Homo sapiens: one gene and its partners. The protein of the gene in region 3 interacts with the protein of the main gene of each other region in a biochemical or structural test. Each region holds a gene or a part of one and is shown on either strand. Other genes may lie near its edges.

Region 1 (3,651 bases), on a different chromosome or scaffold from region 3:
AAACTTCCGCCTCTGCCTAAGGGAGGCTCCATTCTGTTCTGCTTGAGGGAGGCAAAGCTTGGAGGTCAAGGTCATAGGATGAGTGTTCTTCCTTTTTTTTTTTTTTTCTGAGACGGAGTCTTGCTCTGTTGCCCAGGCTGGAATGCAGTGGCACAATCTAGGCTTATTGCAACCTCCGCCTCCCGGGTTCAAGTGATTCTCCTGCCTCAGCCTCCTGAGTAGCTGGGATTACAGGCGTGCACCTCCATGCCCAGCTAATTTTTGTGTTTTTAGGAGAGACAGGTTTCAGCATGTTGGTCAGGCTGGTCTCACTCCTGACCTCATGATCCACCCACCTTGGCCTCCCAAAGTGCTGGGATTACAGGCGTAAGCCACCGCACCTGGCCATGATGAGTGTTCTTTCTAAAGCCACCTGGCAGCCATGTCTCCCTCTAACTCCAGGTCACCCGTGAGCCCTTGGACCACAAGTCATGGTAGGCTTGCCTAGCTTGAGGCTTCAGATGTGTGTGCTCACTCACACAGTGCCTGCTCATGGGATGCATTTGAGGAAATATTAGATAGTTTCTGGGCCTGAAGTCTCAGGCCCAGTGGTCAGGAACCACTTGACCCAATCATTGCCTACCCCCTGGTAAGGACTGGCCTGGATGGCCAGCAGGGAGCCCAGCTTTCCTTCCCAGGTGTCCCCTTGTCACCCCCGGCCCTGTCAAACCACAGCACTTGAAGAGTGAATCAGGACCCATACCTCGCAGGGGAGGATGAACTGGCACCACCACTTTTGGCATCAAATGAGTTGATTATTGGCTGCCCCTTTGCCCAGCAATTCCATTCTGAGAAATTCACCTGAAAGGAACTTCTGTCCATGCACAAGAACAGTCACAGCAGCACCATCGTAACAACAGAACACTGCAATCAACCAAATGTCACCTAAAGGAACCTGGATAGTGTGATTTACAGTGTGATATATTTACCCAACCAGATACTATCCAGCAGTGAGAACAAATAAAGGACAACTGCATGCATCAATGCAGATGACGCACAAAAACAGTGTTGAACAAAAGGGGCAAGCCATAGCAGAACAGATACAGCAGAATACCTTGTATATAAGCAATACATGGATTGGGGGAGATACAGAGGAGGTCAAACTCTAAGAAAAGGAGGGTACGATGAACAGAATTCGGGCTGGCAGATTCCTCCAGGGAGGACAGGGCAGTGATGGGGTGAAGACAAGGGCCTCCAGAGGAACAAACAAATTCTATCTCTTAACCTGGTGTCAGGGATACAAGTATTTGTTATTTGTCTTAGTCTGGGATGTTATAACAAAATACCAGCCACTGGGTGGCTTATAAACAATAGAAATGTGTTTCTTAGAGTCCTGGAGGGTGGGAAATCCAAGATCAATGCACCAACAGCTTTGGTGTCTGGTGAGGGCCAGTTTCCTGGTTCATAGATGATGCCTTGTCACTGGGCTCCGTTGGGCTATTTTAGAAGGGCACTAATCCCAATCATATGGGCTCCACCCTCATACCTCATCACCTCCCAAGGGCCCCACCTCCTAATATCACTTTGGTGATTAGGTTTTAACATATGAATGGTGGGGTGACACAAACATGCAGACCATAGCATTTATTATTAGTTTATAAGCAGTATAAATATTTATTTATTTATTTATTTTTTTCTTTGAGATGCAGTCTCGCTCTGTCACCCAGGCTGGAGTGCAGTGGCACGATCTCGGATCACTGCAAGCTCTGCCTCCCGGGTTCACGCCATTCTCCTGCCTCAGCGTCCCGAGTAGTGGGGACTACAGGCACCCGTCACCACGCCCGGCTAATTTTTTGTATTTTTAGTAGAGATGGGGTTTCATCGTATTAGCCAGGATGGTCTCCATCTCCTGAACTCGTGATCCACCTGCCTCGGCCTCCCAAAGTGCTGGGATTACAGGCGTGAGCCACCGCGCCCGGCAGCGTATAAATATTTACATATCCTTTTCTATGTGTAAACTTGTGTAAATTGTCTGCAAGACAATAAAAATGATTTGAAAGTGAGTGAGGGTATAACCTGCTTGTTAGGCCTAAAGCCAAAAGGTCATAGGATCACAGGTGGTGGTCTTGTCCCTCTAGGAAAATGGACAGATGTCTAAAAGCTGCCCAAGGCATGCAGAAGTGGATGCCACAGGAGCTTATTGAGTCATTTAAGAGACAGCATGCTATGGTTTGAATGTTTGTCACCTCCGAAACTCATGTTGAAACTTAATTCCCGATGTGGCAGTATTGAGAGGTGGGGCCTTTAAGCGGTGACTGGGTCATGAAGGTTCTTCCCTCAATAATGGATTAATCCATTCATAGATTAATGGGTTATCATGGGAGTGAAACTAGTTAGGCTTTATAAGAAAAGAAAAAGACACCTGAGGTAGCACACTCAGCCCCTTACCATATGACGCCCGGTGCCGCCTCAATACTCTGCAAAGTCCCCACCAGCAAGAAGGGACTTGACTTTGGACTTCTCAGCCTCCAGAGCAGTAAGAAGAAAATTTTTTACCATATAAATTGCCCAGTTTCAGGTATTCTGTCACAAGCAACAGAAAATGGACTAAGAAACATCCAGTTATCTCCTTCTCGAAGCTGTCTCCGGTATTTAAGAGGAAACGTTAAAGACGCAGCCCCGTCACATCCCTCCATCAAATGGACTAAGACACATCCAGTTATCTCCTCCTCGAAGCTGTCTCCAGTATTTAAGAGGAAACGTTAAAGATGCAGCCCCTGTCACATCCCTCCATCAAAAAACATAGGCTGCCTCGTGGAATCAGAGTCCTTCCCAGCCTCCAGGTAGGTAAGGCTGGGGCTGGGGGCTGTGGGGCTGTGCTTTTAAAAGCCGTTTCTGTGGATTCTTGGTTCTGCTGAGTAGCCAGATCTGAGAACCAATGATCAGGTACTAAATATGCTGTCCCATGTGGTGGTCACCAGCCCCCGTGGCTACTGAGCACTAGAAATGTGGCTAATGGGACTGAGGACCTGGATTTTCAACTTCATTTAATTTTAATTATTTGAGGTGATAATAAAGTAATAAAGTTATTAGGAGCCTTTTTTTTTTTTTTGAGACGGAGTCTCGCTCTGTCGCCCAGGTTGGAAGGCAGTGGTGCGATCTCGGCTCACTGCAACCTCCACCACCTCCCGGGTTCAAGCAATTATCCTGCCTCAGCCTCCTGAGTAGCTGGGATTACAGGTGAGTGCCACCACATCCAGCTAATTTTTGTATTTTTAGTAGAGACGGGGTTTCACCATGTTGGCCAGGCTGGTCTCAAACTCCTGACCTCAGGTGATCCGCCCATCTCAGCCTCCCAAAGTGCTGGGATTACAGGTGTGAGCAACCACACCCAGCCTAGGAGACATTTAAGTGTGTTTGGAACAACTTGACTATGTGAACCTTCATTTTTAATTGTGAATTTTATAAAAGTAAATACAGATAGAGCATTTACTTAGAAATTGTGAATTGAGATATGCTGGAAGTATATGAGTACGAAAAGAGTATGCAAGATATCTTATTACTGATTTTTTTTGTATGTCACAGAATCCCCCAAAATCTTGGCTCACTGCAACCTCTGCCTCCTGGGCTCAAGTGATTCTCATGCCTCAGCCTCCCGAGTAGCTGGGACTA
Region 2 (3,965 bases), on a different chromosome or scaffold from region 3:
AAGGGTCACAGAAAACGGCCTCGCCTGCGTCCTCAGCTTTGGGAGGAAAGAGGAGACCTGACCATGGTGGGAGCCAGCGACGGGTCTCACCACCCGCAGCACTGAGGCGTCAGGTGGGCGGCGCTTGGCTCTGCCAGGAAGCAGTATTGGCCAGCAGTACTCCGAGCTGTCTCCCACGCTCTAGACTATATTACCCGAGAAAGTCATCATGAGAAGATATTCTTAAATTAAAAATAAAACAAAACTGGATATTCATCCCCTCACAGGGTGCTCCAACTCAAAACTCAAGTGCACTATTTCTTAATTACCTGATTTTTCCTGATTAGTACCGAAAAAAATAGACCCTGATCAGCCTGGCCATCATGGCGAAACCCTGTCTCTACTAAAAATACAAAAATTAGCCGGGCGTGGTGGTGTAAGCCTGTAATCCCAGCTACTCAGGAGGCTGAGGTAGGAGAATCCCTGAAAAAAAGAGGAACCCAGGAACGACAGAATGAGACCCTCTCAAACAAAAACAAAAACAAAACAAAACAAAACACGCTAATTTAATTTTAAAAGTGAATTCGAATCATCCCACTGCCAGAAAGGTTTGAAACAAAGTGAGGAGAATCAGTTTTCATCTCTTCCCATATTATCAGTATTTATTAAGCATTTCCCACAAACATAACCCGAGCACAAGGCCCAGACCTTGAAAAGAAGACAGACCTGGGATGCACAGACCTGTTTGTAAATAACTGTTAGGTAATTTTTAAAATGTTAAATAAGATAACTGGTTTTCCAAACCCTCCAATCACATACGTTTTCATAATTTCTAAAGATGTGAAGGTCATACTGGCTCGTGAATAGTTGTTGGTTTCCAAGGCGCACCAGGCCACTGTGCTTGTCTTCAGCACAGCCTCTACCTCGGAACAGGAATTACGTCCACATCCTAAATAGAAAGTTCCGAATATCTTTGGTTTAGTGGTCACCCAGGGGTCCATCTTTCTCCCTCACCCCCAGATCCAGGCCCGTCCCCCCTTGCCTTCCCTGCCAGCAGTGTGGAACTGGAGCACAGGGACTCTTGCACTGCTCCTAAGCCAGCCCTGCCGCTGCTCGCCCTGCCTTGCAAGATGTTCTCTTCCTCAGAAGAAAGGGGTGCAAGTTATAAGATGTGCAGTAGTGAAGTGTGCAGCTAGAGAAGAGGAAGAGGAGGGATGAGAAGGGGAGGTAGAAGGAGGAGGAGGAGAAAGAAAGAGGTCAGGAAGAAAGAGGAGGAGGAAGAGGAGGGAGAAGAAGAGGAGGAGGAGGAAGAGGACGGGGAAGAAGGGGAGCAAGAGGAGGGGGAGGAAAGGAGAGCACGTGGAAGAGGAGGAAGAGGAAGAGGAGGGAGAAGAAGAGGAGGAGGGAGAGGAGGGGGAAGAAGAGGAGGAGGGAGAGGAGGGGGAAGAAGAGGAGGAGGAGGAGAAAGAGGAGGGGGAGGAAAGGAGAGCAGGAGGAAGAGGAAGAGGAGGGAAAAGAGGAGGGGGAGGAAAGGAGAGCAGGAGGAAGAGGAAGAGGAGGGAAAAGAAGAGGAGGAGGAGGAAGGGGAGGGGGAAGAGGAGGAGGAGGAAGAGGAGGACTCACTGTATTCCACTGGCATCAATTTCACGGGATCTTTGAAAACTCAAACATTTCCTTTCAATTATTTCTAAACTTAAAGGGGTCGCCCGAGTAAGAATGGCTTTATGGCAGATTAAGGTACTCGGCCCAGCTTCCCCGCTGTGTGTGTTAGGGAGCCTTCCAATGTGTATGGTACAGTTTCCATTGTCTTTGAAGAGCCGGCTTCTCTAAACAGGTCCCAAGGTGGAGTGCTGTAGGAGGGCAGGGATGTGCGCAACAGCCACAAACAACGCCAATCCAGTATCACTAAAAGAGGGCCCCAATACTACAAAAACCAATGGCTCTTTTTCTTCCGGAAGGCCTGCCGGCATCTACCCGCGGGGCCCCAACTGGCACATGCGCCTGAGAGAGCGGGTTTTCCCCTTCGGTCTAAGGTGGGCCCCGCAATTGCCGCCCCATTCAACTGCCAGGGCGGGTGGTCCACGCCCGGGGTCCTCCTAGGCCCTCTGCTCCTCCTCGGCGAGTGGTTGAAGCCCCTCAGCCAGGAGCAGCTCCTGCCTCTCATCGTGGTTCCTGCGGCCGCCGAGGCGCGACGCTGGAGGGCTGTGGCGACGCGCTAAGGCCAGGCGGCAGGCGGCCCTCTCGGGCGGCAACGGGGGCAGCGGGCGGCACAGCACCTCCGGGGGGCGGCGGCGGCGGCAGCGCCAGAAGCTCCTCGCCGGAGGTCACGGCGCAGTCCTGCTCAGGCTCCGCGACCCCGCCACCCCCGACAGCTGTCCCGCCGCCGCGCTTCTTGTCCTCCTCCTTTTTCCACTTCATGCGGCGGTTTTGGAACCAGATCTTGATGTGTCTCTCGGTCAAGTTCAACATGACAGCCAGCTCCACCCGGCGCGGCCGTGAGATGTACTTGTTGAATAGGAACTCCTTCTCCAGCTCTAGCAGCTGTGCGCGCGTGTAGGCCGTGCGCGTCCGCTTGTTCTCCTCCGGCTCCGCAGCGTAGGCGCCGCCTGCGGGCGACACAGGGCGTGAGTGTGGCCCCCGGAGCCCCGCACAGCCCCCACCCACGCAGCCCAACCCCTTCAAGGGGGGCCAGGGAGCCCTAGCCCTACCAGCTGCTCCCGCCGGAGCCACCAAGCCCCAGCATCCCATTTCAGCGCCTAGTGTAGGCGCGCGAAGCTCTTCCCTAGTAACTCAAGCCCTTCCTAATAAAGATAGCCTTTTTATTGGAGACCAAACTCGAGTCAGCTCTCGCCGTGAGCCTAAGCTTGGCTCTGCCAATGAGTGGTCCTTGAATGCGCTCATATAATCGGTGTTAATCAACTGATTGATGTTGATTTAAATGTATATAATAGTTAAACCGGCTGGATCCTACAAAGGCAATAAAACGCCTTTAATCCAGGGCTAAAAAAAACCTCCTGATGGTGACCCACAAATGTGAGAAATACATTTCGGATCGTTGTGTAGTTCACACACGGACACTGCAGGTCAGTTATACTGACAAATCTTAAGGACATAAAACAAACGTTTACCACGTATGATGCTATCTACTTTTCTCTCCATTATCTGCTATTTCGTTTAAAAAATACTAATCTCAACCTAGTAAATTGATTTTATGACCTGCGAATGGGTGCAACCTGCAGTTTGAAAATCTTTGTGCTAATGGAGACTGTGACACATTTTGTTATATCTGACCATGTGTTTCCTCTCTCTATAGTTATATCGTAATTAGTCCCAACCTGAGAGCCAGCAAATTCTCCATAATTGTTTTAACTTCAGCCGGACTTCTGCCCGCGAAGTGAAGGAATATTGTTCTGGGGGTCACGTTGGCCAGGGCAGAACTCTGGCAGCTCCAGACTCTACGCCCTGGATCCCAAATGCCCTCAGAGGTGTTGAGGGGAGACACAGGGGCCCTAGCCCAGCTGCAGAACCGACAGCCCTACGGAGGAGGTGGTAGTGGTGCAGAAACAAGCCTCTCGTGTCTCCAAGAGGCAACAGGACGCCCTGGCCCAGGAGGTTGGAGACCCACATTCACTGTTTGCCGCTGCGCTCAGCCAGGTCCCAATCTTTTCTTTTCTGTGGAAAATACTGACTGCACCCAGGCTGTGGACGCTGGCGCGGGAAGTTCCACCAAAGTTCCGGGGAGAGGCTTGTCTTAGAGCAAAGGCAGGGGACATTTCTCCTGTGAATGTTGGCTAAGCCTTAAGGAATTGAAAGGCGAGTGTGTGTGTGTTGGGGGCGGGTTTAATTTCGCGATGGAACCCTACTGGGTTTCCCCCCAGGTCGAGAAGAGGCGCCAGAAGCTGAAGCAGAGGCTCAAACCCTAGTCCAGGGAGAGTTCTACTCCCTGGGGGCATCCCCGAATCTACCTGGCATCCCACGCCTGGGAG
Region 3 (3,088 bases):
TCAGGAACTTCCTTGTGGACACCAACCACAAGACGTGTCTACCAGAGGGGGGAGCGGGGGGAGGGCTTCCTGGAGGAAGCAGAGTACACGTCCATTGGCTTTGCTGAGGGCCACGGGAGCTGCAGGCCACTTCAGAACAGGGTCACGTGCCCTTCAGACGTGATCAGGCATGTTCACGATCTTGGTGTGAACGGGCTTGGTGTGACCATGGACACACATGCCCTTTAGGAAGATGGCTGTGGCGACGATGTGAAGGGTGCTGCAGGACGAGACTGAACAGGGAAAAACACCGAAGGATGAAAGCAAACAAGAAGGACGTGGTGAAGGTGGGTGTTCACACAGTGGGCCAAATGGAGGAGCAAGCTTCAGGGAGAAGACACCCAAAGGACTATTGTTACTTCCTGTCGCCGTAAACATCCTCATCCACGCTACCATTTATTTCCTGTCACCGTAAACATCCTCATCCACGCTACCATTTATTTCCTGTCACCGTAAACATCCTCATCCACGCTACCATTTATTTCCTGTCGCCGTAAACATCCTCATCCACGCTACCATTTATTTCCTGTCACCGTAAACATCCTCATCCATGCTACCATTTATTTCCTGTCACCGTAAACATCCTCATCCATGCTACCATCTATTGGGTACCTAGAGATGCCAATGCTGTACCAGCATTTTACATGGCTTAACCCAAATCCTCACAACAACCTAGCAAGATAAATATGACTTTCATTTTGCACAGAAGAGCAAGGCTTGGTGAGGTGAAGTTGCTGCCAAGCACGCACCAGAGCCAGGTCACCAGCACCCACAGCCCTGCCCCTGCACTGGCCAAGGCCATGCGTCTCCAGGTCCGCAGCTGGGGGTCTGTCCCCAGAAGAGGTCTGGGAAGCAGCAGCCTGTTCTCAGAACCAGAATTAGACAAGGGAGCCAAGAGAAACCACAGCAGTGAGAAGAGTGGCACGGACAGAGCCCCGGGCTGGACTCGGAGAAGAGGGGCTGGGAGGGAGGGGAGGGGAGGGGAGGGGAGGGCTCAAGAGGGCAGATCACAGAGGCCAGAGCAGCAGCGTGGGTGAAAGTCGGGCCCCCAGGCTGAGTCAGCAGGGTGGTGGGGTGGCTAGCACAGACCGCAGGGAAGCTGAGCGGACGGATGAGAGCTGTAGGGGCTAGAGCAAGAAAATCAGTTTCAGCAGTTTTTGTTTTTGTGTTGTTTCTGTTTTTTAGAGAGATTTCAAGATGTTTAGAAGCTGAAGAGAAATATCCAATAGAACAGAACAGAGGTTGGCAAACTTTTCCTGTGAAGGGTCAAATAGTAAATATTTCAGGTTTTGGGCCACATGGTCCCCACTGCAACTCAACTCTGTCATGTAGGACAAAGGCAGCTACAGACGACACATAAGCAAATGAGCACAGCTCCATTCCAATAAAACTTTATTTATAGAAACAAGAGGCAGGGGATGTTTGCACACACGTTTGTAGCAGCATCACGAACAACATAAAGATGGAAGCAAAAGGTAGAAGCAACACAAATGTCCACTGACAGATGAATAAGTACAGCATATCCAGAAAACGCAATCAAATTCAGCCTTGAAAAGGAAGATGCTGGCACAGGCCACAACATGGATGGACCTTGAGGACTTTATGCAAAGTGAAATAAGCCAGTCACCAAAAGGCAAATGCTGTACGATTCCACGTATAGGAGGTCCCTAGAGTAGTCAGATTCATAGAGAAAATAGCAGAATGGCAGCTGCCAGGGCCTGAGGAAGGGGAAGAGGGACCTAAGGCCACAGTCTGCCGACCCTGGAGTAGACGGAGATGAAGATGACAAGACAGAAGCCAGGGCCCTGAGGATGGGATTGAGAATAAGAACTCAGAAACCCTTTCATCCAGGGAGATGGGGAGAGGACGCAGGAGGGAGGAAGGAGCTCCTGAGAGGAGGCCTGCAGCCCCGCAGGCCCAGGAGCAGTACACCGCTCACAGCCAGAAAGGAGAGGCCAGGAGGCAGGGCAGAGCCCTGGCAGGGCAGGCGCTCAGGGAGAGGGTGGGAGCCACAGCTCTGGGAGGCAGGGCCAAGGTGGCCAAGCAGCACTGAGCTCTCGCCCAGGTTGGATCCCCCCTGCACCCTCCCCAAGCTTCACGGCCTGGGTACAGGAAGGGGTGACAAGCCATGCAGCAGGCATCATGGGTCAGTGGACAGGGGACAGGCAGTTCCCTCCAGCACGGAGGGCACGACAACCACTGCAGGGCAGGCAGAGCCCACCAGCGCCCACCAGGCTCTAGGGCAACCAAACTAGATCTGAAGGGAAACTCCACGGCCCTTCTTAGACCAACCCCCTTCGATATTTCACGCTGTTTGGTGGCTCTGAAGATGCATGGAGGTTCTAGCGGGGAAGAGCCCATTTTCACTTCCTCCATACTCTGCACACAGGGCATCCAGGCCCAGAAGAGCTCAACGCTGCCTGGCATGGAGAGGTTGGCGCAGGCTGAGGCTGCTGGGCTCTGAGGACTCAGGGTGTGCAGCCTGGAACCTGCACCTCCTAATGAAATATGGCCTAAGCAGACACCAGGATCCAGAGCCCAGCCACTCCTCTCCCCAATGCTGAGGCCCTCCCGAGAGCCCAAGGCACGGCATGGAGCTCGTGCGTGACTGCGAGCAAATGCCCTGGCCTCAGGCCACCAGGTCAGGTGCAGCAGGTCTGTGAGGGACCCCGTGTGCCTCTCCTGTGGGGGCAGCATCAGCTTCCCTCCTAGAGAACCACATGGAGCAGATATGGGCGGTGCAGCAGAGCACTGCAGCAGAGGGCCAGGAGGGTCCAAGCAGTGCTGTGATCATCCGACTCTCTAACCATGAACTCACCTAGAGATGCATTCCAACCACACCTCTCTAAAATACATGTAGGTGTTAGTGGAAAACACCTGCTATCTATTTCTGACTTAATAAAGTCTATTTCATACACATAGACACATTTGGTTTACAGGCAGATGAGACAGTGATCGGGCACGTCAGCAGACAGTCTCCACTCAGGCCCTACAAATGAACCACAATCTTCCTTTCCGTTTTGCTTTCCTCTCTAAAGTCCCCCGAGAG

What was found.
Region 1: of the proteins of PASK (region 3) and FXN, one has a biochemical effect on the other in vitro, tested with the Homo sapiens proteins (one study listed by IntAct).
Region 2: of the proteins of PASK (region 3) and PDX1, one has a biochemical effect on the other in vitro, tested with the Homo sapiens proteins (one study listed by IntAct).

What each region holds. Positions count from the first base shown.
Region 1 is NC_000009.12:69,038,696-69,042,346, reverse strand, and holds part of FXN (frataxin, mitochondrial isoform 1 preproprotein), read right to left. Parts: intron 1-3,651.
Region 2 is NC_000013.11:27,922,876-27,926,840, reverse strand, and holds the end of PDX1 (pancreas/duodenum homeobox protein 1), read right to left. Parts: intron 2,586-3,965; coding exon 2,140-2,585; 3' UTR 528-2,139; downstream 1-527. UniProt on the Homo sapiens protein: Activates insulin, somatostatin, glucokinase, islet amyloid polypeptide and glucose transporter type 2 gene transcription. Particularly involved in glucose-dependent regulation of insulin gene transcription.
Region 3 is NC_000002.12:241,108,536-241,111,623, forward strand, and holds part of PASK (PAS domain-containing serine/threonine-protein kinase), read right to left. Parts: intron 364-3,088; coding exon of another isoform or gene 164-363; exon of another isoform or gene 1-163. UniProt on the Homo sapiens protein: Serine/threonine-protein kinase involved in energy homeostasis and protein translation. Phosphorylates EEF1A1, GYS1, PDX1 and RPS6.